3 linked regions of the Homo sapiens genome follow. The protein of the gene in region 1 interacts with the protein of each later gene in a biochemical or structural test. Each region holds a gene or a part of one and is shown on either strand. Other genes may lie near its edges. The genes, in order: CNTN1, SCN3A and USP25.

The links.
Region 2: the proteins of CNTN1 (region 1) and SCN3A form a complex in vitro, tested with the Homo sapiens proteins (one study listed by BioGRID).
Region 3: the proteins of CNTN1 (region 1) and USP25 form a complex in vitro, tested with the Homo sapiens proteins (one study listed by BioGRID).

The regions. Positions count from the first base shown.
Region 1 is NC_000012.12:40,695,189-40,702,873, forward strand, and holds part of CNTN1 (contactin-1 isoform 1 precursor), read left to right. Parts: intron 1-7,685. UniProt on the Homo sapiens protein: Contactins mediate cell surface interactions during nervous system development.
Region 2 is NC_000002.12:165,200,480-165,208,442, forward strand, and holds the start of SCN3A (sodium channel protein type 3 subunit alpha), read right to left. Parts: upstream 3,572-7,963; 5' UTR 3,344-3,571; intron 1-3,343. UniProt on the Homo sapiens protein: Pore-forming subunit of Nav1.3, a voltage-gated sodium (Nav) channel that directly mediates the depolarizing phase of action potentials in excitable membranes.
Region 3 is NC_000021.9:15,823,392-15,831,076, forward strand, and holds part of USP25 (ubiquitin carboxyl-terminal hydrolase 25), read left to right. Parts: intron 1-647; coding exon 648-775; intron 776-1,574; coding exon 1,575-1,670; intron 1,671-2,812; coding exon 2,813-2,974; intron 2,975-3,585; coding exon 3,586-3,812; intron 3,813-4,949; coding exon of another isoform or gene 4,950-4,960; exon of another isoform or gene 4,961-5,294; intron 5,295-7,139; coding exon 7,140-7,210; intron 7,211-7,685. UniProt on the Homo sapiens protein: Deubiquitinating enzyme that hydrolyzes ubiquitin moieties conjugated to substrates and thus, functions in various biological processes including inflammation and immune response.

The sequences.
Region 1 (7,685 bases):
AATAAGTAGCCTTAAAGATTCTTGTTCAGGAAGCATCATCCTAAGAAGCTGGATGGGTGCAGCAATGATTTGGGGATATTTTTTTGGTAGAAGGCTATGCCTTGGGAGGAAACTTCCTCTGGCTTTATGATCCTCTCCATGAGGAGTAATGGATGACATAAGGTGTTTCTATATCTTTTCATAGAATGACTCGGTTCTACAGTAGGGATTATGACTATGTACTGGTTCTATGTATTCTCTTGTATCTTGTGTCCCTTGAGACCAACTAGGAAGAGCTGAAATAGACAATTTATATTTCTGTATACAAAATATGTCCTGTAATTGCCTTATTTCAAAAAAAATCAACAAATTCTCCAATTTCCATCTATTTCTACATGTAAATTGGCCATGGTCTCTATCATATCCCACAACTTATTCTAACTCACCAGTAAGCTCCTCCTCAATTCCAATGTTTGTTTTCTTTTTATTGATGTATTATCGATTGTTCTCTTCTGACCTTCTATTTTCCATATTGTCCATCTTCTTGAAATTTTGCTCCTTGACACCACAATGCTCTGATAGCGTACTTTTTTCTTAATTTTTCTAACTTTCCTTTCTTTGTCTCCCTCTTATCTTCTCTTTCTACTTCTAGCTTTCAAGCAAATCCCCCAAATTGATGACAATTTATCTTATTGAAAATAAAGTTCTCCTTCTGCATTTCCATTCCTAATCTCCCTCCCATTAGCCATTTCCTTTACACTTACCCTATCGGCTAAGAGCACAGGCTTTGGGAGGAAGCCTGCAGGTGTTAATATTTATGTATCATGATGCAGTTAAGCGAACATCAGCAAGTCAACTGGGGATTATCATAGCACTTACGTGAGAGGATTTTGTGATTTGTAAAATATTAAGTGAGATAATGCGTGTTAAACATTCAAAATAAGGTTTGGCCCATGGTAATTACTCATAAAGAATAGCTATTAATAATAGAAGTGCTATTGTAGCAATTGTAATGCACAAGGTGAAAACTGGTTTTGCTTTTTCCCCATCAATAGGCATCATTCCTAAACTGGCTTTTATCAATGGAGACTACAACTTTACAGGCTTTCTGGCTTGTGGTTAGTTACTTTTTAAGACTTTCTTTCCTCTAGTCCAAGTGTTCACCATATAGTCAGTAATTGATTCATTTTTATTTTCAACTCTAATTTGTATCTTTCTCTGCTTATTCCAGCACTAGTTTCTTCTGGCACTCCATGCCTGGATGAGTCCAGTAGGCAAGTTATCAAAACTTCCAATTTATAAGTCTATCTGCTTTAATCTAAGATGCCATGTATTATTGGTATAATGTGTTTTCAATTTTCATTAGTGCTTCTACTTTCCTTTGAAACTTTCACTGTACTTTAGTTCGTATCTTAAAAAGCACTGATTTTGGAGCAGGAGACTCAGGTTCAACTCCTGACAACAGGACTGATCCGTTGTGTGACCTTGGAAATGTAGCAGCAGGAGGATGGGGCATTATTTCACTTCAATAATATGAATGACCAACTGTGTAAAGTTACACTCAAAAGTCTATCTATTTAATATTCAATTGAAAATAATATCTTATTATTATAAGGACATCTAAAATCATTAAAGAAATACTGGGAATAAAGAAAAATCCACCAAATTCCGCAGTACAAAGAGATCCTATTTCAATCTTCTAGTCTTATTTCTATTAATATAAATAGGTATTTTTCAATTATAGATTTGAGTTTACAGTGAACATTCACTTTTGTATTTAGCTTTTTAAACTTAATATACCATAAACATTTATTCATTTCATTTAATATTCTTACTATCCATGTGTTTTTTGGCTGTCAATATTCTATGATAGATCTTCAGATTGTTTTCAGTTTTGCATCGTCAAGAACATGAACCTTTGTATACATTAATATTTGCATTTCTGACCATTTCCTTATGACACCTTAGAAGTTACCCAGGCAAAAGTGTAAATATTTTTAGCCTCATAACACTTACTGCCAAATTGCTTCCCCCAAAATGTAAGCACAGATTTATTCTCTACCAGTGGTTGTACCAGTTTGGCCATACTCTCATTAACACTTGATATTATTTTTAAAAATTGGGATCATTTTGATAGTACAAATTGTGTATCTAGTTATTCTTCTGAGTTATTGTTCCTATGATTTTGGATGAGTTCAAAAATGTTATATTTATAGGTTCTTTGTATTTTTTAATTTGTGAATTTCATTTGACTCTTTATTGGAGTGTTCATATTTTCTTCATGTAATAGGAAATCTGAGGTATACTGCAAAAATTGTCTGCATCTTGTTCTTTGCATTTTAAAAAATGCTTTCTAACACACAGAAATGTATAGCTTTACTGTAGTTTATAAATCTATTTGCAGTAGTGTCTCTTTGTAGCTTTCAGGTTCAGAAAACTTTCTACCACTTAACGGAGAATTGAATATAAAAACAACATGTGACGGTGCTATTGCTGAACTTCTTTCCTCCTTTGAAGCAGAATCTGGCTTATGTATATCATATGTATATCCCAGTGCGAAATGGCTCTGGGGACACATAAAATCCACTCAGTCTATTAAGATCCTATTATTCTTTAGGCAGCTCTCCCATGAAGTGAATAGTACCTTAATTCTTTCTGAGCTACTATTGTCCATTTTAAAAGAGCCACAGGGCAGAATGCACTATGGAAGATATTAATGGCCAGGTTACTCAGCCAGAGCAGGGCACATTGTTTGCACAATTATCTGAATGACTCAGGCACTAAATCTGCTTCTGCCAGGATTATCCAGATGGTCCTTAACTCAGTAGATAATTTTTCACTCCTGTACTTGATTTTGATGGTGTAGACCTGAGCATGTCACCACTTTTCCTGCACTGTCTTGTTACTACTCAATTTGCTTAGGGCTGGTTGCTTTAGTTTCTTTTATGAGAGGCAGGTTTGCCCGGTTCTCCAGAGCATAGGTGTTAAGAGTTATGCAGAGCTTTGCATGAAACCTAGCTCAGTCAGTTACTAGCAGCGTGCTTTGAGGCCAGCCACTTAATTTTTTTTTTTTTTTTTTTTTTTTTTTTACGGAGTCTCGCTCTGTCGCCCAGGCTGGAGTGCAGTGGCGTGATCTCAGCTCACTGCAAGCTCCGCCTCCTGGGTTCACATTATTTTCCTGCCTCAGCCTCCCGAGTAGCTGGGACTACAGGTGCCCATCACTACGCCCAGTTAATTTTTTTGTATTTTTAGTAGAGATGGGGTTTCACCGTGTTAGCGAGGATGGTCTTGATCTCCTGACCTTGTGATCCGCCCGCCTCGGCCTCCCAAAGTGCTGAGATTACAGGCGTGAGCCACCATGACCGGCCATGAGACCAGCCACTTAAATTTTTTTACAACATTGTTTTCTGTGTAAGAAACATATTCAGAGTTTGAAGTCCCTATTTCATTCTCCTCCCTCATAGTCGCCTTCTTCTAAGTACATTCTATATGTCATAACCACAGTTGTCTTTCTAAAACCAATTTCATCGTATTCTTCCTCTGCTGAAAATTTTTTGAGTTAGTTCCCCTTTTTTTGTATTAGTAAGATGTCTGAAGTCTTTTGCATTGCACCTAAAGTCCTTTATTAAATGGTACGTGGTAACTTCTCTAGATTCATTTTCTGATTAATCAAATTTCTTCCATCTCCAATCTCCCGTAATGTCAATCAACTGAACGGTTTGCCTTCTCCTAATGCATCTTGTTTCCTCTTTTCTCGCAACACCCTCCCATGTTCCCCATGTTCTATTCTCTACTATAAATAACCTGTTTTCTTGTCTGCTTTTTAACTGACCTAACCTTTTCATGCCTTGGGTCAGGTGCCACCATTTCTTGGAGGACTTCCCCTGAATTCCCAGTCTTAAATTTTGACTCCCTGTGGATATCCCTGCCGTGTCACTTACCATACTATATTGTACTGATTGGTTACTTGTCTCTTGCCTCCACCGTAAGTCCTTGAGGATAGACACCATATGTTATTTTTCTTTGTGTCTGATAGAGGACCTGACATAGAGTTGATACTTAATAAATATTTTCTGAAGAAATGAATAAAAGAAGGTTAAGACTAAATTAGTTTTTAGGATTTCAACAAATGAAGGATTCATATCTTTACCCTGGAAACCAATCAATAAAAGCTAAAAATTATGTCAATCTTCACAATATTTCAAAAATTAACTTCCTGGTTTTGTTGATTTATACAGAGTAAATAAAAGAGAGTTTTTTTTTAATGAGGAATTTTGTAATGAAAAGCATGCCTAGGACAGCCAATAATTCCAAATTGCTAAATCAGTCAATAAATATCTTTTAAATAATTCTGCATTTTAAAAGGAAAGAGGAATGCATAGTTACATGGATAATGTCGATGTATAAATTTAGCTGTGTTGGAATTAAATAATGGCAAAGTTAATTTCACTTTTCTTTATTTAATAAAAGGTCTTCCATTGGTGTCATCTTTGGTAGATTACAAAGCATGGTCACATGCATAGCCTTATTTGATCCTTCGTAACAGTTTTGAAAGTTAGATTCAAAGGCATGGTTATCCACATTTACAGATAAAAAAAAAAAGCTCAGAGAAGTAACTAATTTGCCCAAGGTTACACGTTAGTGGCAAATCTGGACAAGTAAGATGATCTTGCTCATAGTTGAGTGTCCCATGTGTTATGGTTGGCCCAGAACATTTCACTGAGAGATGACTGCCATGATTTTGTCTAGGTTAAGGACAACAATCTTGATAATAATAATCCCCTGAAAGTCCTGAGCAATCTAGTAAAAATGTATTGCATTATTACCTATATAGGGTTTTTACTTAGATTTTTAGTAATCTGAGAAGAAACCAGCTGACAGAACTTTTTGCTTTAAACATATTTTAAAGTCTTATATTTAGTTACTTGATCATTTAGAACACACACACATACACACACACACCATATTACCCTTTCTTTTGTTTGTTTTGAAGTATTTGCCTTTTATATTAGGTGACAAGTACAATGCTCTTTCCCTTACTTTTTTTTTAAAACTTGAATTATTAAAATATTTTTTTCAGCCAGGCATGGTGGCTCACGCCTGTAATCCCAGCACTTTGGGAGGACGAGGCGGGCAGATCATGAGGTCAGGAGTTTGAGACCAGCCTGGCCAACATGGTGAAACCCCATCTCTATTAAAAATACAAAAATTAGCTGGGCATGGTGGCACATGCCTATAATCCCAGCTACTCAGGAGGCTGAGGGAGGAGAATCATTTGAACCCGGGAGGCAGAGGTTGCAGGGAGCTGAGATCATGCCATTGCACTCCAGCCTGGGTGACAGGGTGAGACTCTGTCTCAAAATAAAAAAAAAAATAAAAAATAAACTGGATTTTCTTTGTTTAGTAGACAATGTTCAACTTTAGTCTTCAGGTTTTGGCTTAGCATATATTCTGTGTAATCTTGGAGAACCAGATAGGTCAAATGCATTTTTTAGGAAATAGCACAAGTGATGAAAAAGAAATTTATGAAAAACAGATGGGTACTTAGTAAGAATGGCAATCTATCCTAGTTTGAAAATTACAAACACCGAGATATAAGATTGATTTTTAAAAATTGACTTGTGCAAACATCTTCTCTATAATTGCACCTCAATTACTAACAATCACTTATTGAGCACTCACTCTGTGTTGGGCATTTAAAAAAAAATGTGTTGCACATGACCATCTCAAAACTTTACAAAACCAGTGAAAAGGATTTTTAAAGTTTATTATTCCGATTTTGCAGATCAGGGAAGTTAGTTATTAAAAAGTTAATGCATGGAGAGGCTAGAATTCACACCCAGATTGTCTGACTCTGAAGTCCAAGTTTTTAATTGCTGTGTTATTCAGCACCAACCCCCAGTGCTCATGATAGCTGGTTTTAGTACTTTGTGAGTCACGGTTTAAAATGCTGCTATTCTAAGTGACCGGAATCTATCCCTAGACCCTCAAATAAATTTAGTATTAATACAAGGAATTAAATCATTCTAAATTTGCATATGTTTTATTTATGAATATCTTATTGATATCTTTCACTACAGTAATTTACATGGTGCAGTTTCCCAAGCATGAATTGGACCATTACAATGTGTCATTTAAATATGCCTCTAATAGGCCAATCATTTGAATTTTGACACAAGCACCAGAAGTTTTTATGCATTTCTGCCCTAATTTTGCTTTCTAACATCTCAAACCATAAACAGTAATTCTCTCCTAAGGCTTCTAATCTGATAGTATTTAATTGTCATGGTTACTAAAAGTACAGATTTGTTAACTGTAACAGACAAGATGAATATTATAAATAATATTTATAATATTCTAGCTTGAAAAGCTGTTTACTGTAATAGAATTTTATCTCAGATAAAACTTTCCTTTGTAGAGTATTTTTATACATTAAATGTGGTGTAATATAATTTAAAATATTTGTAAATGCCTAATGGATTGACTTTATTTTTCTTTTGGTCTACTTATATTATTTTGGAGAGCATAACAACTTTCAGATTGCTTGAAAATTAACCTGGTTTCTCAAAAAATGTTATTTTCTAATTTTGGTTTCTGCACAAGTTGAGTGGTAATGAACCTAAGACATCAACTTTAAGTAAAACACTGTATTATTACATTCTTTCCTTTTCCCTTTTTCATTAAAGAATGGCAGACATACAGAAAACATTTGGCCCAATGAGCTATAACAAAGTATTCATACTATGAAATCAACACTCATTTCAGAAGAAAGAATCTTGTCAGCACCCAGGTACCCCGCTTCCAGCCCCACTTAATCACTATCGCCTTACTGTTCTCCAAAGATAGCTTCTGACTAATAAGACTGTAGAATAGTTTTGTCTGTTTTTAGAATCTACATAAACGGAATCATGAAGTATGCATTTTTGTATCGGATTTTTTTTTTTTTTCCCTAGAGACAGGGTCTTGCTCTGTTGCCCAGCCTGTTCTCGGACTCCTGGTCTCAAACGATCCTCCCTGCTCAGCCTCCCAGAGTACTGGGATTACAGGCATGAGCCATCATGCCTGGCCCAGATTCCTTTTGTTCAAAATTTTTTGTGAGCTGTGTCAATATTCTTGCATGTAGCAATAATTTATTTTCATTGTACTGTAGAATTCTATTGAATGAATGCCCCCAAAATATACATATTTATTCTATTGTTGAATACTTGGGTTGTTTCCAGTTTTGTGTTATTACTGATAGTTCTCCTATGCATGTTTTCAAATTTATTAGACATTCTTTTTCTTTTTTCTCTTTGAGACAGCGTTTCGCTCTTGTTGCCCAGGCTGGAGTGCAATGGTGCGATCTCGGCTCCCCGCAACCTCTGCCTCCCAGGTTCAAGTGATTATCCTGCCTCAGCCTCCCAAGTAGCTGAGATTACAGGAGCCTGCCACCATGCTCCGCTAATTTTTTGTATTTTTAATAGAGGCCATGTTGGCCAGGCTGGTCGTGAACTCCTGACCTCAGGTGATTCACCCACTTCAGCCTCCCAAAGTGCTGGAATTGCAGGCATGAGACACTGTGCCTGGCCCAGAATTGAATTATGCTATATACGGTGTTCTGCCACTTCCTTTTATCTTGGACAACTTTTTCTTTCCACATAGTATAGTGCCAACACATTCTTTTCAGCACTTGCATAGTAACCCTTTGCATAAAACACAATTTATTT
Region 2 (7,963 bases), on another chromosome or scaffold:
AGTTATCATCAACCCTAAAGATAAGAACTCGTAAGAGCTGGGAGTGACCTAGAACTGAGAGACAGATGAGCAACAAATTCCAAGCACCGCATTTGTCTAGTTGAGAAACACTACCCTCATATTTTTAAGCCTCCCAAGCTCTTAGCCCTCTCAGATCTGCCTAATCAAGAGTCCATTAAGTCATCTTGGCTGCCATGAAGATGAAGCTGACAGCGCAGTTACTTGAGTCAGTTTAAAGAGGCCTAGGGTGGTTGAAGGGAAGGATTAGGAGGCCTGGGGTGCTGAAAGGTCATCCAAGTTCTAGCTCCCAAAGACCCCAGTAGCACACAGCTGTCAGGAGCACGAAGCTACACTTAGAAACAACCTTTGGAGGAAAGCAGGGATTTTGCAGTCCATCAACCATTCATCAAGCACAATTTGCCTTTCCACATCTTATTGTACCGTTAATAGAATTGAAGCATTAGAGAGTTTGTGAGTTGATCACATAGCAAAGACTTTCCTGAGATTTAGGTTCAGTTATCTGGTGGTCTTAGTAGAAATTACTTGGCGTTTAAATGTGGTTTTGGTGAAACCTAGATTCCCTTTGTGAATCTTTACAGAAACTTCGTCTAACAGGTATATCCTCTTAAGGCAACGTGAAATAAGGCCCTTTGCCTCTATTTTCATAAGAAGAAGAAAGTTTTGAAGTCCGTGATAACATATTGGGCATAAATAACTGTCTTCTGGAAGGCATTATGAGTTCTATAAACTCTCCAGGAATTGCCTGGAATGTTAACACTAAGTGATACTATTATAGGTACACAATTGTTGTTGTTTCAGCAAGGGCATCCTTCCAGGATGAGAATTATTCACTTTTCAGGTACATAATTATTTGGCAGTTTTATTCTATCCTTCCTGTTGTGGTGGAAGATATTATATCACCAGCACTAACGATAACAATAATAACAATGATGAAAATTTATGCCTTTATGTTTGTCCTGTTCCTTTTGATGTGAGTTAGGATGGCAGGGAGAGAGAGGAAGGAGGTTCGTAATCATGTTCCAGGATCTATACCAAGCACTGAACAGACATTATTTTAGTTACACAATCCTGTAACACAGGCATTATTATTCCTATTTTAAAGATGATGTAATAAAGGCTCAGAGAGTTTAAATAACTTGTCAGGTAATAGTGGCCATAAAATGTAACCTGCCAAGCTCTTGCTCTTAACCACTTCTCCATGTTGTTTCCTGCTTGTTTCCACTACAGAAGGAACTGGCCAAGAAACGCCCCTATTTCTCTATTTTACCACTTTCATGTTTAGCACATCAATCATAATTTACAACTCAGTGAGAGTCAAAGTTGTATCTTAATTAAGCTGAGAAACCAACTGAAGAAAAATCCAAATAAATGAGGATCAGAAAATTTTAAAAACAAAGTATTCTTATACAGCTTTGATTCTAATTTCCTTCCTTTGTAGGCAAGGAAAATGCTCTTCAGTGATACTTGGGGTCTTTTCTGAGACAACAAAACTCACTAGTAGCAGAACATGAACCAGATCCCAAGACTTTCAGCTCAGGGTTCAACCTTTTTATCTTCAGTACTCAAATAAATCACAGCATTTTTCTCAACTTTACAAATGAAATCACCACTACATTCTTTTAAAGAGTAAGTTATTCAAATGTGTTTGATATATCATTTAATCAAAGCAGGTTTAATTTCCGAAATTTTTGAAAGAGCGCATTTTGTGAAGTGAAGAACTCTGAGTGTATTTGCTTTTTCACATGGCGACCACATGTATAGATGAATAACTAAGAGACTGTTGCAACTATACCAAGAAAAATAAAAGCTAACATTTGGGGCCAAAATTAAGCATTCATTCATAAATGTAAACCAGTTCAATCAAGACCAGCTCTGATGCTTACTCAGAACAAAGTTACTCACATTTAGTCACCTGTAGAGAAGCATGGTGTGTACAATACACTCAAGTTAATTAACAGCCATTTCTGGGAACCCTGTCCAAAGAAATAGTTTTCTTTATCTCCTATGGTAGGAATTCTTCTGAAATAGACAAGACCCAGGGCTCTCCTCTCAGGCAACCACTATTTTGAAATGTTTTTGGGGGGACTATTATTGCTACTCAATGTAAAATATTAAGTGAGATGTCAATATTTTTCAACATATCATTAGGAATTACAGTTTGGAGGCCTTAAGTTCTATTTTTGAAGCCCTTTTAGCCAGTACTGACTGGAAGCCCTGTTGAAATCAGAAGTCTTCATTTCATATAGGGCACACTCTATTTGGAGTGAATGTGATGAAATGTTTCCATGCAAATTCCTACAAGCACTTATGCCTTTATCTTTGTCCTCATAAGCCACATTATACTACCTGTTGTGTATTTTAAAACCCTGTATGATTTTTAAAACTTATCTTTCAATTAATATGTATAGATTTTCTGTCAATAATTTCTTATTCTAATTATGTGGTGGCTAACTGAATGAAACATTTATGGTTATGATATAGAATATTCTAAATACAACTACAGACAATATGGATCATAGATAAAGTAAATTATTGTTTTATGGCTCCAGTGGTTCTTCCTGGTAATTAATAAAAATAAACAGTTATTAAATATATACAGAAAAACAGCAATCTATCAAGCTTATAGAACAATTAAGAATATATAATAATCTTTAAATCAATAAATTAAAAGGTAAACATTTAATATAAAATGAATATATTAAAGGATAAAGAAGTAGCATATTATGGAACATATAGAGATTATTTTATTTTTTGAAGGTTCAACCTCTTTTAAATGGTTAGTATTGGTGTTCTTTTCTCTATGAAAACAGATTTTAGAGAAAAATGATAGTGTATTTCACAAAGCCAAACACCTCTATATTGTTATCACTCCCTATATGCATGGCCTCTCTAAAGCTGTTAAATAAAAAACTAAAGCACAAGAATGATAGTTCCAATTTCACTATACATTTATGTTTAAAAAATACTGGACACACTGGGCATTTAAATAGATGACATACAGCCAGGAAACTCATTAGACTAGCTTTAAGTATAATAAAAAATATTTTTTCTGAATACAATTAATCATAAGCATCTACAAAAACACAAGACCATTGATGCCTAGTATGTACCATAAATCACCATTTCCAGACAGGCTCTATTTTCTTTGAAAGATAAAGAAATAGTAAGCAGTTTACACATCAAACGATGCCTTTGGTTCCTGTAATTTACATTTAAACAACACTGGGTTAAAAATAGCAGCATGAAGATGATTTTAAAGTAAGGAAAATGACCTGGTAGCTAGGTTCTATGGTGCAGATAATGAAATGTTTTGTCAGCTTACCTGATAAAACAGAGCCTTATGAATTACAGCATAACAAAGCCCAGCATCCAAGATGGTTAGGGTATAACGTGTCTTCCTCTGCAGCTGTTCAGCTTTTTTTTTTTTTTTTTTTTTTGACCACAGAGGTTTACAAATTAGTTACAATTTTTTTTCTTTCTTTCTCTGTGGATAAGAAAACAAAGAGACCTTTCCAGAATCCTCTCTGCTTATGCCTCCGCTTCCTGTTCTGAGATTCACTCTATGGTACCCAACATATATCAGAAAACAGCTTTGAGGAAAAAAAAAAAGAAAGAAAAAAAGGCCGATCGCACTCAAAGTGGTACCGCCATCTACTGGCGGACACACACAAAATTGAGCCAAAGAAAAAACATTCCCATTATCCTCTGTCACAGGGAGGAAAGTAAACCTGCATGAAGCATGGGTAGTCATGAAAGTGCCCCAAGATGACAGTAGAGAGGTGATGTGAGCTAAAATTTCCCAACACACTAAAAAAATGTAACTTATCTACTACATATAAATATGTATGAGACCTTTTACATATTCAGTTATTTGCATCTCACTAATTTTTTTAAAAAATTTTATCACTTTGTTGTTTTGCATGATTGTTTCACACATAAACTACTAAAATTAAAAGATATATAAATTACTGTTTGAAAAATAGGTTTTAAGTTTACATTACCCTTTACGTGTAGAGTTTTGCGAAAGCTCCCTTGTGGCCTGCTCTAGTCTTTTGAAAACCTTTTCTCTTCCTGGGATGAATTATTTTCAAGGTGAGGAATTTGACTCCTTAGAGAACAGTGTAAACACATACTCACTGATAGTATTTTTGTGTTGCTTTCTGGTAAAACATTTGCAAGAAATATCTAAATGTAGAAAAAGATTCTATACATCAGTGAACCTAGCTAATATTATTTATTAGGATATTGAAGCACACAATACATAAAGAAAATAAAAATAATCCATCAGTTATTAAGATATTTCTCAATCCAGATGTATGTTATTGTTTCATCTGACCTTTCATATCTACTTTAGAGCAAACAACTATGATTTTATTACAGTTTATCATCAATTAAATAAATACATTCATATTGACAAACCAACTGTATGGATGGACAAAAATGATGTCAAGTATTATATTAGACTTGAAAAGACACAGAGAGAAACACACAGTGCCTGCCATAAAGGAGCTCATACAAAGAAGAAAAACAAATATAGCTGATACCATATTTCCCAGCCATGTGTTCAAGAACTGTTAATTACATACTTCGTTTTCAATTGTGGCCCCCATTTTGTCTAATGGCAGAAAAATAAATCTAGTCAGTTCCAGGTAAACTAAATTACTTGAGGCTTTTCCCAATGATTTTGGGTTTGCATTCAACCAATACATGATTTTCCTCTTCTATCTCTCCTTCTCATGGAGACTGATCTAAGTTCAGGATTGTGTACATATATAGAGAAAGCAGAGTATGATCCCGTTCCCCCTTTCTCCACATGGGCATCCACTGAGGCCAGGAGTCCTGCATGATCCATGACCATCATTATCCCTCATATCTACTAACGTACCCACAGGCCCACTGGGCCCCGGGAATAGCATCCCTCCAGCTTTGCATGGCAGCATCCCCTCTTTGTCACTTCTTCCTCTAAGGAAACTTTTGTTCCTGTCCTTTAGGAGGAGAGAAGAAAAAGCAGCATGTTCCCAGGGTCACTCTTGGCTGTAATTGGCTGACTTAAGCCTTCCTCCCTGCCCCAGGCGCCTCACACAGCCATCTCTGTTCTGCTGTTTGTAAACCATGGGATGTAATGCACTCTGCAGGCTTCAGGCAAGCGAGGCACAATCTCTGCCACACTAGAATAGTGTAAATAGATGGAAACTTCTCATCTTTTCATCTTTTTAGCTAATCCTAGATTGGCAAACTATGTAAGGAGCCCTTATCAGAGACTCCTTTCCTTCTTCATAACTTCCTTCACAGACTCAAAAGAGTTTTTGCTTGGGTCTCTTCTTTCTGTACCAAAGGTAAGCTGGAGCCACTTGTTTTCCCTTGAAATCTTTTTGTCTTATGTCTAATGTATCAGTTTACTAGGGCTGCTGTAACAAACTGCCATCCTGAGGGGCTTAGACACAGAAATCATTTTTTTCACAATTCTGGCTACTCAGAGGCCAGAATCAAGTTGTCAGCATGATCATGCTTCCTCTGAAACCTGCAGGGGAAGGATACTTTCTTGCTTCTCTTAGCTTTTAGTAGCCCCAGATGTTCCTTGGTTTGTGGCAGCATAACTCCAGTCTCTGTCTCTGTCTTTACATGGTGCACTCCCTGCATCACTGTCTTTACGTACTCCTCCCTCTGTGCATGCCTCTGTGTCAAATTTTCTCCTCTTTATAAGGACACCAGTCACTTTGGTTTAGGGTCCGCCCTCATAACCTAATTTTAACCTGATTATCTCTGTAAATACCCTATTTCAAAATAAGGGCATATTCTGAATTACTCAGAATTAGAACTTTTTGAGAGGAGGCACAATTCAACCCCTAACACAAGAATTTAAATATAAAGCACAAGAATTTGACAATTCTTCTGTCCATCTCCAACGACAATTCCACTTAGGCAATAATAGCCTTGGCTATCTGGCCAGAATTGGGGAGGGTAGGGGAAGAGCCTCAGGTAATGATGAAGACATTTAATAATATTAGTAACAATAACAAAACTAACATTTATTGGTACTATGTGCCAGACATTGTTCTAAGCACTTTACATATGTTCATTTAAACTTCACCCATATGAGGTATTATTATACACACTTTACAGGTGAAGAAGCAATGAAATGTGAGGGAAGTAAAACGTAGTTAGTACCTGATATGGTTTGGCTGTGTCCCCACCCAGATATCATCTTGAATTGTCAGATATCATCTTGAATTGTAGCTCCCATAATCCCTACATGTCATGGGGGGCACCTGGTGGGAGGTAATTGAATAATGGGGGCGAGTTTTGCCCATGCTGTTCTAGTGATAATGAATAAGTCTCATGAGAGCTGATGGTTTTATAAAGAGGAACGTGTCCCCTGCACACGTTCTCTTGCCTGCCACCATGTAAGATGTGCCTTTGCTCTTCCTTCACATTCCACCATGATTGTGAGGCCTCCCCAGCCATGTGGAACAGTGAGTCCATTAAACCTCTTTTTCTTTATACATTACCCAGTCTCAGGTGTTTCTTTATGGCAGTGTGAAAATGGACTAATACAGCACCTCACATCTCATCCCAACACAAGCAGTTGTAATCGGGTAAGATCACTCATAATACAAGCATTTGTCAGATGCTGAAAGAACACAAAGGAAATCAGCTTCCACTAATTTAGATCATTGATACTCACACGTTTAGTGTAAATTTATAACATTTCATTGTTTCATTGTGTACACTTTCTGTCATGAAAGATTCCTATTTTCTAGGCACTTTTAACTTTTTCTTCTCTACTCATGAACAAACTAGCCCTGCTCACTGTCTCTCAACTAAATGTTCATTAAGTGCCAGTCCCTACTGCTCCACACTCATTTTACCATTACTAGTAATATTTAATAGAATATTAATTCTATCACTCAGTTTTGGGTATCCAGATGCTCCAAAGAGTTTTCTGATGACGTCTTCTGAGGAACTGATTTTTCTTAGGTTATACTGGGCCACATTTTAATGAGAACTGGTTTGAACAAAATAAGAAAAGTAAATGATAATTATTGTGGCGATATTCCTCATAGAAAAAAAGAAAAATAAATAAATGCCAGCAAAGAGAGCTTTACTCTTTGTTGCTGAAGAAACTAATTTATCTTGTCATTAAAAGTAGAAAATTATATAAAGGAAGAGTGACCAGAGGTGTGGTATCATTTGCTATGATTCTAACTTCATTGTGACTTTCGTACTTTTTTTCTGTAGACAGAACGACAGGTAGTTTGCAAATCTTCAGTGAGTGGATTCTGAGAGGGTTAAGGTGAAATAGTCATTGATTACCAACATAAGGTCTCTGGAGCCTTAGTGGTGTCTGACCATATGTTGTAAACATATCATGCATAAATCACAGAAATTCACACTAGAAGAGAGCTAATAGCCTCCAGCTGGGACTCATAGGTTGCTCTGTGCATGTCTACTGTTTCTGATTACTCAAGGTCTTCAGAGCCTTTGTGGGTAGGAGCTATAATGCTGGTTTCTATTTGATTTTATAAGCTTCATAGCCAAAGAATACTTTTTGTAACATCCATAGATCTACCAAAAGATTCCCAGACTCTGGCCCAATTTTCTTGTTTCCTAGACCATTATTTCCCAGACAGTGATTGGAGGAATACTACTGTTCTGCTGGACTAATGAAGTGCCACTCCACATCCACCAGAATGGCTACAACTTAAAAAGGCTTATCATACTGTTTGTGAGAATCTAGAGCTACAGAAGCTGTCAGAGACTTCAGGTAGGAATGTAAACTAGTATAACCACTTAGAAAAATGGTTTGGCATTACCAACTGAACGTGAGTCTACTCTGTGAGCCAGCAAGTGCCACTCTTAGGCATATACCTGACAGAAATGTGTGTGTGTACAAGAATGCCTGTGGAAGCATTATTGAAAACAGGTCAAACAAGAAAGAACA
Region 3 (7,685 bases), on another chromosome or scaffold:
TCATTATCAGAATTTGGCTCATAGCAATGAGACATTCAATTCTTTAAACACTAGTTATTTTAAAAGATTTTAAGTAAATTACTCTAAGTATTAACTTTTTGTTAGTGATATGTCTTTTTCATAAATTAGTATGAAATCCAGCAGAGGAGCTAAAGCTAAAACAGGAAAACACCATTTTTTCATTTTTAGTATGAGAGTTGTGACGATTTATGATATAAATTTTTTTTTGAGTACTCCCTCTCATAAGTTATTTTATCACAGGATTTTGATGCTTTGGTTAAGTATAAGTGCCATTCAACATCACGTTGAAGAAGACAGAGAAGACTTGAGCTACTAAGTCATGGTTTTAACCAGTGTCTTTTTCTTTGGGCTAGAAATTCTAATGTAAAGAATTATTTTCGAAGGATAGTTGTGAGATTTCTTTTTTTCCTGATCATATATTATACCCACTCTTGGAATTTTCAAGAGGTGTGGAAAACTTTTAGAAAGAGGTTGAGTTTTAACTAAACTGTGTACCCAGTTACTTGTCAGGTCCGCATTGTGGTGATACATATAACAATGTCAGTGCCCACATCCTGTGCCTAAGATTGCAGTGAAGAAAACAAAGGTGGTATTAAAGTTTTTGTTATTGTTTTATTTCCTTTCAGCATTGGTTTACTGAATTACCACCTGTGTTAACATTTGAATTGTCAAGATTTGAATTTAATCAGGCATTGGGAAGACCAGAAAAAATTCACAACAAATTAGAATTTCCCCAAGTTTTATATTTGGACAGGTATGGTTTGATATACTGCATGACTTAGTTTGAAACAGTTTAGTAAGGGAGAAAATATTGTTTAGAGGAAAATTCTGCATAATTTTCTTAGAATTAATTTCTACTTTTGCATAATATACCTAATACCATTTGTCAAGGTAGATGAAATTTACTTTGTATTAGAAAAGTATAGTTTTTGGGAATAATGTTATAAGGAAATTTAAAAAAGATGAATTTTGTAATCTTAAAATTCAGAATTTTAAAAAATACCATTTTGTATTATCTACCTTACATCTTATACAATTTTGAATGAATTGATGCTTTGTGGTGATGTCTGTACTTAATATTGTATCTATCTATCTTTCTGTCTTTCTTTCTGTCTCTCTGTCTTCCTGTCTTTCTGTCTTCCTGTTTTCCTGTCTTTCTTTCTTTTGTTTTTTTCTGTCTGTCTTTCTGTCTATCTTTCTGTCTTTCCTTCTTTTTTGTTTTGAGACAGAGTCTTGCTCTGTCGCCCAGGCTGGAGTGCAGTGGTGCGATCTTGGCTCACTGCAAACACCATCTCCTGGGTTCAAATGATTCTCCTGTCTCAGCTTCCCGAGTAGCTGGGATTACAGACACCCACCATCGTGGCTGGCTAATTTTTGTATTTTAGTAGAGACGAGATTTCACCATGTTGGCCAGGCTGGTCTTGAACTCCTGACCTCAGGTGATCCTCCCGCCTTGGCGTCCCAGAGTGGTAGGCCGGGTACGCTGGCATCTGGCCATATTGCATCTACTTTCATGATATTCGGAAATGCTAATGATTACCTTTTTCTGATAGATACATGCACAGAAACAGAGAAATAACAAGAATTAAGAGGGAAGAGATCAAGAGACTGAAAGATTACCTCACGGTATTACAACAAAGGCTAGAAAGGTATTTTAACTTTTATGAAATTAGGAGATAATTATCAGAAACCATGTATTTGGTGACTAGATTTTTAATTTCAAATTTGCTTTGAGTGATTTATAATTTTAGGAGTAGTTAATATTGTGTGAATAGTTTTGAGTTTTGCTTGAAACTAAAAATCTATAGTAGACTTTAAAAAATTATTCTAGTGTTTAAAATTAAATATCTCATTGTCAACAGGTAATGTTCCTACTGCTGAAAATAGATACAAAGTTAAATGAATATAGTTTTGACCTTCCTTTTTGCATGAAACTAAAGATTACTCTTGAGATTTTCATTAAAATGAATGGTATCTGAGTTTTTCTCCTTAAAACAGGATACAAACTCAGCTGCCTACCAAGTCTTCTCAGCAGCTTCGTAAAGGAGGAAATTGTGTCAGGTGTAAGATGGTATGTGCCGGGAGCCTAGAGAGCAATCTGTGTGTACAGGGAATGAATGCCATTCCATACCAGTGGATGGTACCATGTATGAGTATGGCCTCACTGTTGTCTATTGATTTGGATCATTTCTAAAAGACGTCAGAATCTGGACTGAGAAATGTTCTACAGGCCAGACAGAAATCTAAAGGCTGAAATGTCACAAGTCATTTCAGTTTGCAAACCCCAATCTGCTCTGCATTCCCCTATTTTAGGAATTTTCAAATTAGTAGTCTAAAACTTCTTACATCAAATAGTATATTGTATTTTAATGATTTTTATTCTTAAAAAGTATGAATAATCATATTGAAACATGATTAGTGGTAAAAGATAGGAGGATAGTACACATCACTGTCTTGATCATGAGACCAGATGCCAGATCTAAAAATAAAAACAGTCTCAGGAGATGTCAGTTTTCATCTTCCTATTGAGTTACAATTTAGAACAGCATTTACAGATTATAACAGTATATACTCACATTCAGTCCCAATCGGCCTTGGTTTCCTGTCTTTGGGGAACTTTTAATGTTTTTCTTAAGTGTATATTCAGTTTTACCATCTTCGTTTTAAAGCAAATGAATTTTATTGCTGAGGAAGTTTTATTGAAGTATCGTATCACGTTTTATAATAATAATAAAGGCCCAAATATGCTGTATATAGAAATAAAAGCATTTGTACATTTTATGATTAACAGATATTTAAGCTATGGTTCCGGTCCCAAACGATTCCCCTTGGTAGATGTTCTTCAGTATGCATTGGAATTTGCCTCAAGTAAACCTGTTTGCACTTCTCCTGTTGACGATATTGACGCTAGTTCCCCACCTAGTGGTTCCATACCATCACAGACATTACCAAGGTAAAAAGTAATCCTGATGCAAGAGACAGTTGTTACCTTTATTACACAATAATGTAACTGCTGCCTTTAAAGACAGTTTCTATAAAATGTATGCTTTGATTTACTTCAGTGAACTCCTAAGAGTAGATTCACTTAGAAGACTGTATGTCCTCTGGGAGTTTTTTTATTATTTCAGTAGATTTTATGGTTATGGATTAAAATTTTAATCACATTTTTTTTCAGTTCAGAATTATACTTTAGCATGTTTTGGTATGTACATATATAAGATTCAGCATTTTATGATCCATAAAAATAGTACTATCAAATTAGAATTTGTTTCTGTAATGTAAGCTGATAAGCCAGGGAAAATAATATCACCATGCGTAAGATTTTCTTGTTTTTTAGAAATAAATATGATTAAGCTGTTTTAACTCTAAAGCTACAACTTCATCTTATAATAATTTAGTTCTTATGTATTAAAAATCTCATTTGGATGTTAGATCAATCCACATATTTCTTTAAGATTTTTTCTTTTGAATTACAAGCCAATTTAATACTGTGGGTTTGGCACGATCTTTGTCAAGAGTTTCAGCTTGAAAGGTTAATAAGAAATACTCTATGCTTTGATACAGCACAACAGAACAACAGGGAGCCCTATCTTCAGAACTGCCAAGCACATCACCTTCATCAGTTGCTGCCATTTCATCGAGATCAGTAATACACAAACCATTTACTCAGTCCCGGATACCTCCAGATTTGCCCATGCATCCGGCACCAAGGCACATAACGGAGGAAGAACTTTCTGTGCTGGAAAGTTGTTTACATCGCTGGAGGACAGAAATAGAAAATGACACCAGAGGTAAGAAGTGTCTCATAGCATGGTTACTGTCACCTCAGATGGATATGTGTAATGTTAATATTGAGAAGGGAAATCACGTCTGGATTTTATATTTAAATATTATAGTCATTTTTCTTTTCCAGAAAGGGTTTTAAGATAAACTAGTTTGGCTCCCCATTTTTATAATCTCAATATCAGGTTCACAGGGACCAAAAGATTTTCCCTGGATTGCTTAGCTGATTAATGACATAGCAGATGGCCTGATTTTCTAGTTTGCTGCTCTAAATTTATATCAAACTGGTATTCACAGTTACTCCATTGGAGAAATGTCATACAATATCAATGTTTGTACATATCAATTAGGTACTAAATCTAAGTTTGCACAGGGAGTTCCGGTGATTAAAAAATTTTCTTTGGGCTTAAGAATTAGAAATGTGAATTTTAATTTTTAATAGCTCTAACAGATTTATGAGTATCTATGATCCCATTACTAGTCTGTAACAGAGTTTTTACTGGCATGCAGCAAAATAAGAAAAATAAGGACAGTGCTCTGGGTGGGGTGTGTGCACTTGTGTGCGTGTGCGTGTGTGTGTGTGTGTGTGTGTGTGTGTGTGTGTGTGTGTCAAGTTGCCATCTGTCCTTTCTTGGAAGGAACTCTCTTTTATTCTTTTCTATTCTATTTTTTCTTTTTTTTCAGAATAAGTTATTCTGAACTTTTCTCTTTCCTACTTTGCTGCTGTTAAAGTGTACTTAAAAAAATGGATTATGGTAGATTTTATTACATTTTTTTCCTTAAATGTGAAAATATAATTCCCTATTATCATTCCCCAATTTTATGCTGATTTATTGATTTTTGAAAAAAATGAACTATGTGACATGGTTGGAATTATATTGAACAATATTGATTGTTGGATATTATATGACCAACTTAACTCTTTATAGACAATATTTGAAAAAGAATGGCCCTAATTTAGTAAGAAGTACATAAGGTATGATGGTGACTAACAGCATTAGTAGCTGTCAAGATTTTCTTTAGTATTTTTCAAATAAGAGGGAATTTTTAAAAATATTTGAACTCATTAACAAACATTAATCAAGCAAATAGTGTTGATGAAGCACTATATTAGGCGTTGGGTAATTTTCTACTCCTCATGGCAGGTTGTTTTTAAAAGATTACATTCAGAGGAGTGGAAGCTAGGAAGCTTTTGACACCTAAGTAGTGGCATTGAGGGAGGGAAGAAGTGAATGTACTTAAAATACTCTTTGGAGACAACTGACAGATGTGGGTCATTGGCTAGAGGTAAGAGAGAGGGACGAATCGAATGATTCTCTCAGTTCATAATGGTATGAATAACCAAATAGAATGTATTTTGGAAAAAAGGTAAAGCAGTGGGCAAAGAGGTTCCCACTCAGGGGAGGAAAGAGAAATATGATGAGTTCTCTTTTGGCCATTTTAAGTTTGAAGAGCTTTTTTGAGACGGAGTCTCGCTCTGTCACCAGGCTGGAGTGCAGTGGCATGAACTCGGGCTCACTCCAGCCTCTGCCTCCCAGGTTCAAGCGATTCTCCTGCCTCAGCCTCCCAAGTAGCTGGGATTACAGTTGTGTGCCACCACACCCAACTAATTTTTGTATTTTTAGTAGAGATGGGGTTTCACCATGTTGGCCAGGGTGGTCTCAATCTCTTGACCTTGTTATCCGCCCACCTCAGCCTCCCAAAGTGCTGGGATTACAGGCGTGAGCCACCATGCCTGGCTGTTAAGATTTTTATATGTAATACTATGGATCAGGAAAGAAGGTTTTCCTCAGGATATTTTTTTTCTTTCTTTCATCCATATTGATGTTAGCAGTTAGCATTATTTTGTAAACTATTGTGTAATATTCCAACACACGGGTATGATGTAATTCATTTAATTCCCATATTGATATTTCCTAAATAGTGCTGGTCTTCGATATACATATTTATACACTTCTGTAAGTAGGATATGTTCTTTTTTATGTTCAGGGGTACATGTGCAGGTTTGCTATAAAGGTAAATTACATGTCTTGGGGGTTTGGTGTAAGATTATTTCATCATGCAGGTAATAAGCACAGTACCTGATAGGTGGTTTTTCCATCCTCACCCTGCTCCCACCCTCCACCCTAATGTAGGCCCCAATATCTGTTGTTTCCTTATGTCCACCATTTCTGGTTCAGAGTGTGTATATTTTAAATTTTGACGACTGTTTTAAAATTGTCACTCCAAAACATTAAACCAGTTTGCATTCCCACTGTGTGAGAGAGCCTGTCTCCCAGTATCCTCCCTAGCCCTGGACACTTTTTAGTAGTTTTTCACAATTGAAAAACTGGTATTTTAGTGTTTTGATTTGCATTCCCTTAGCTTCGAGTGAAGTTGGATATTTATATTGTTCTGTAAATTTCTTGTTTGTGACATTTGCCCATTTTTTAAGTATTGAGCTATTTGTATTTTTCTTATTACTTAATAGAAAGTTTAATGTATTGTGGATATTAACACTTTACCTATAATATCACATATGCTGCAGATATTATTTTCCCAGTTTTTCATTTGATTTTATGTTGGTTTTGTTTTCTTTTTATAATGTAGATTTTTTAAAGTGTTGGGCAGGGAGGATCTTATCTTTTCCTATAAGGTTACTAGTTTTCTGACAGGCTTAAGACAGGTCTTTCCCCACTCTAAAGTTAGCCAGTTTCTTTTATAGTTTTTCAAGGTTTCTTCCTGATTGGTTCAGCAGCTTCACAATATGATGTGGTTACAATCTAACCGTTTCCTTATTGACAGATATTTAGGTTATCTCTTTTTTAAAAATTATTGTGGACAATATGACTGTGAACATCCCTATCTGAACAATTTTGTAGGATTATTTTCTACTAGAAGTAGAAATAATTGTCATGGGAGTGCCATAATTTTATTTTCACTGGTGATTATAGTCGATTTTTATTCAGTTATGTGTGTGTACAAGATATGTGGTGAACATGTTTTACTTTGTTCTTAAGTTTACTTGTGTTATAGCAATATGTAAGGAAGCTTAGCTTTCATTTTCATTGAAACTCTCCTTTATAGATTTGAACAAAATTCACTTTTATTGGCTCTGCACATTTTCTAGATAAATCATATTTGTGTTGTTTTTAAAGTATGCATTTGTACTGTGTCTTTTATTAAGAATAACTATAATTCATTTTCTACAGATTTCAAATGGTAATGTTTTTTAAGAAAAGTTTTAGGAAAATTTTCCTATTCCTCTAACATGTTTGTAGGAAAAACATTAGTCCTTATCTTATAAGTAGAAACACATTTGCTGTTAATCATTAAATGACACCTTATATCCTTAGATTTGCAGGAAAGCATATCCAGAATCCATCGAACAATTGAATTAATGTACTCTGACAAATCTATGATACAAGTAAGTGAAATTTTGAGCTAGTAATCATTGTCAAAATTATTTACATATATTTTAATTTACCTTTACATTATCTTAATCTAATTTTTCTTTACATGTTTTGTTTTAAAATTTTGGCAAATCTTATTGTAAAATAATAAGGGCTTGCAATATGTACAATGTGACAGTTCATCTGAATGGGGAAACTTTTATAACAAATTTATAACAAAATTCATGACAAGTTTTCCCCATTCAGTTGTATTTTCACACCGTATGTGTTGTGTACCCTTACTATTTTACAGTAAAATCTACCAAAGTTTTTCAAAAGGCTATAGCATCTTTAAAAAGTCTTATGGGAGAAAATCTATGGTTGTTAAAGGATATTAAGATTTGGGAAGAAACTTAAGGACTCCATTACATTTTAACTTCTGGTGTATATCATATAATCTATTTTGTTAACCGTCAATTTAGAATTCTGAAGATGTAGACACATTTGCTA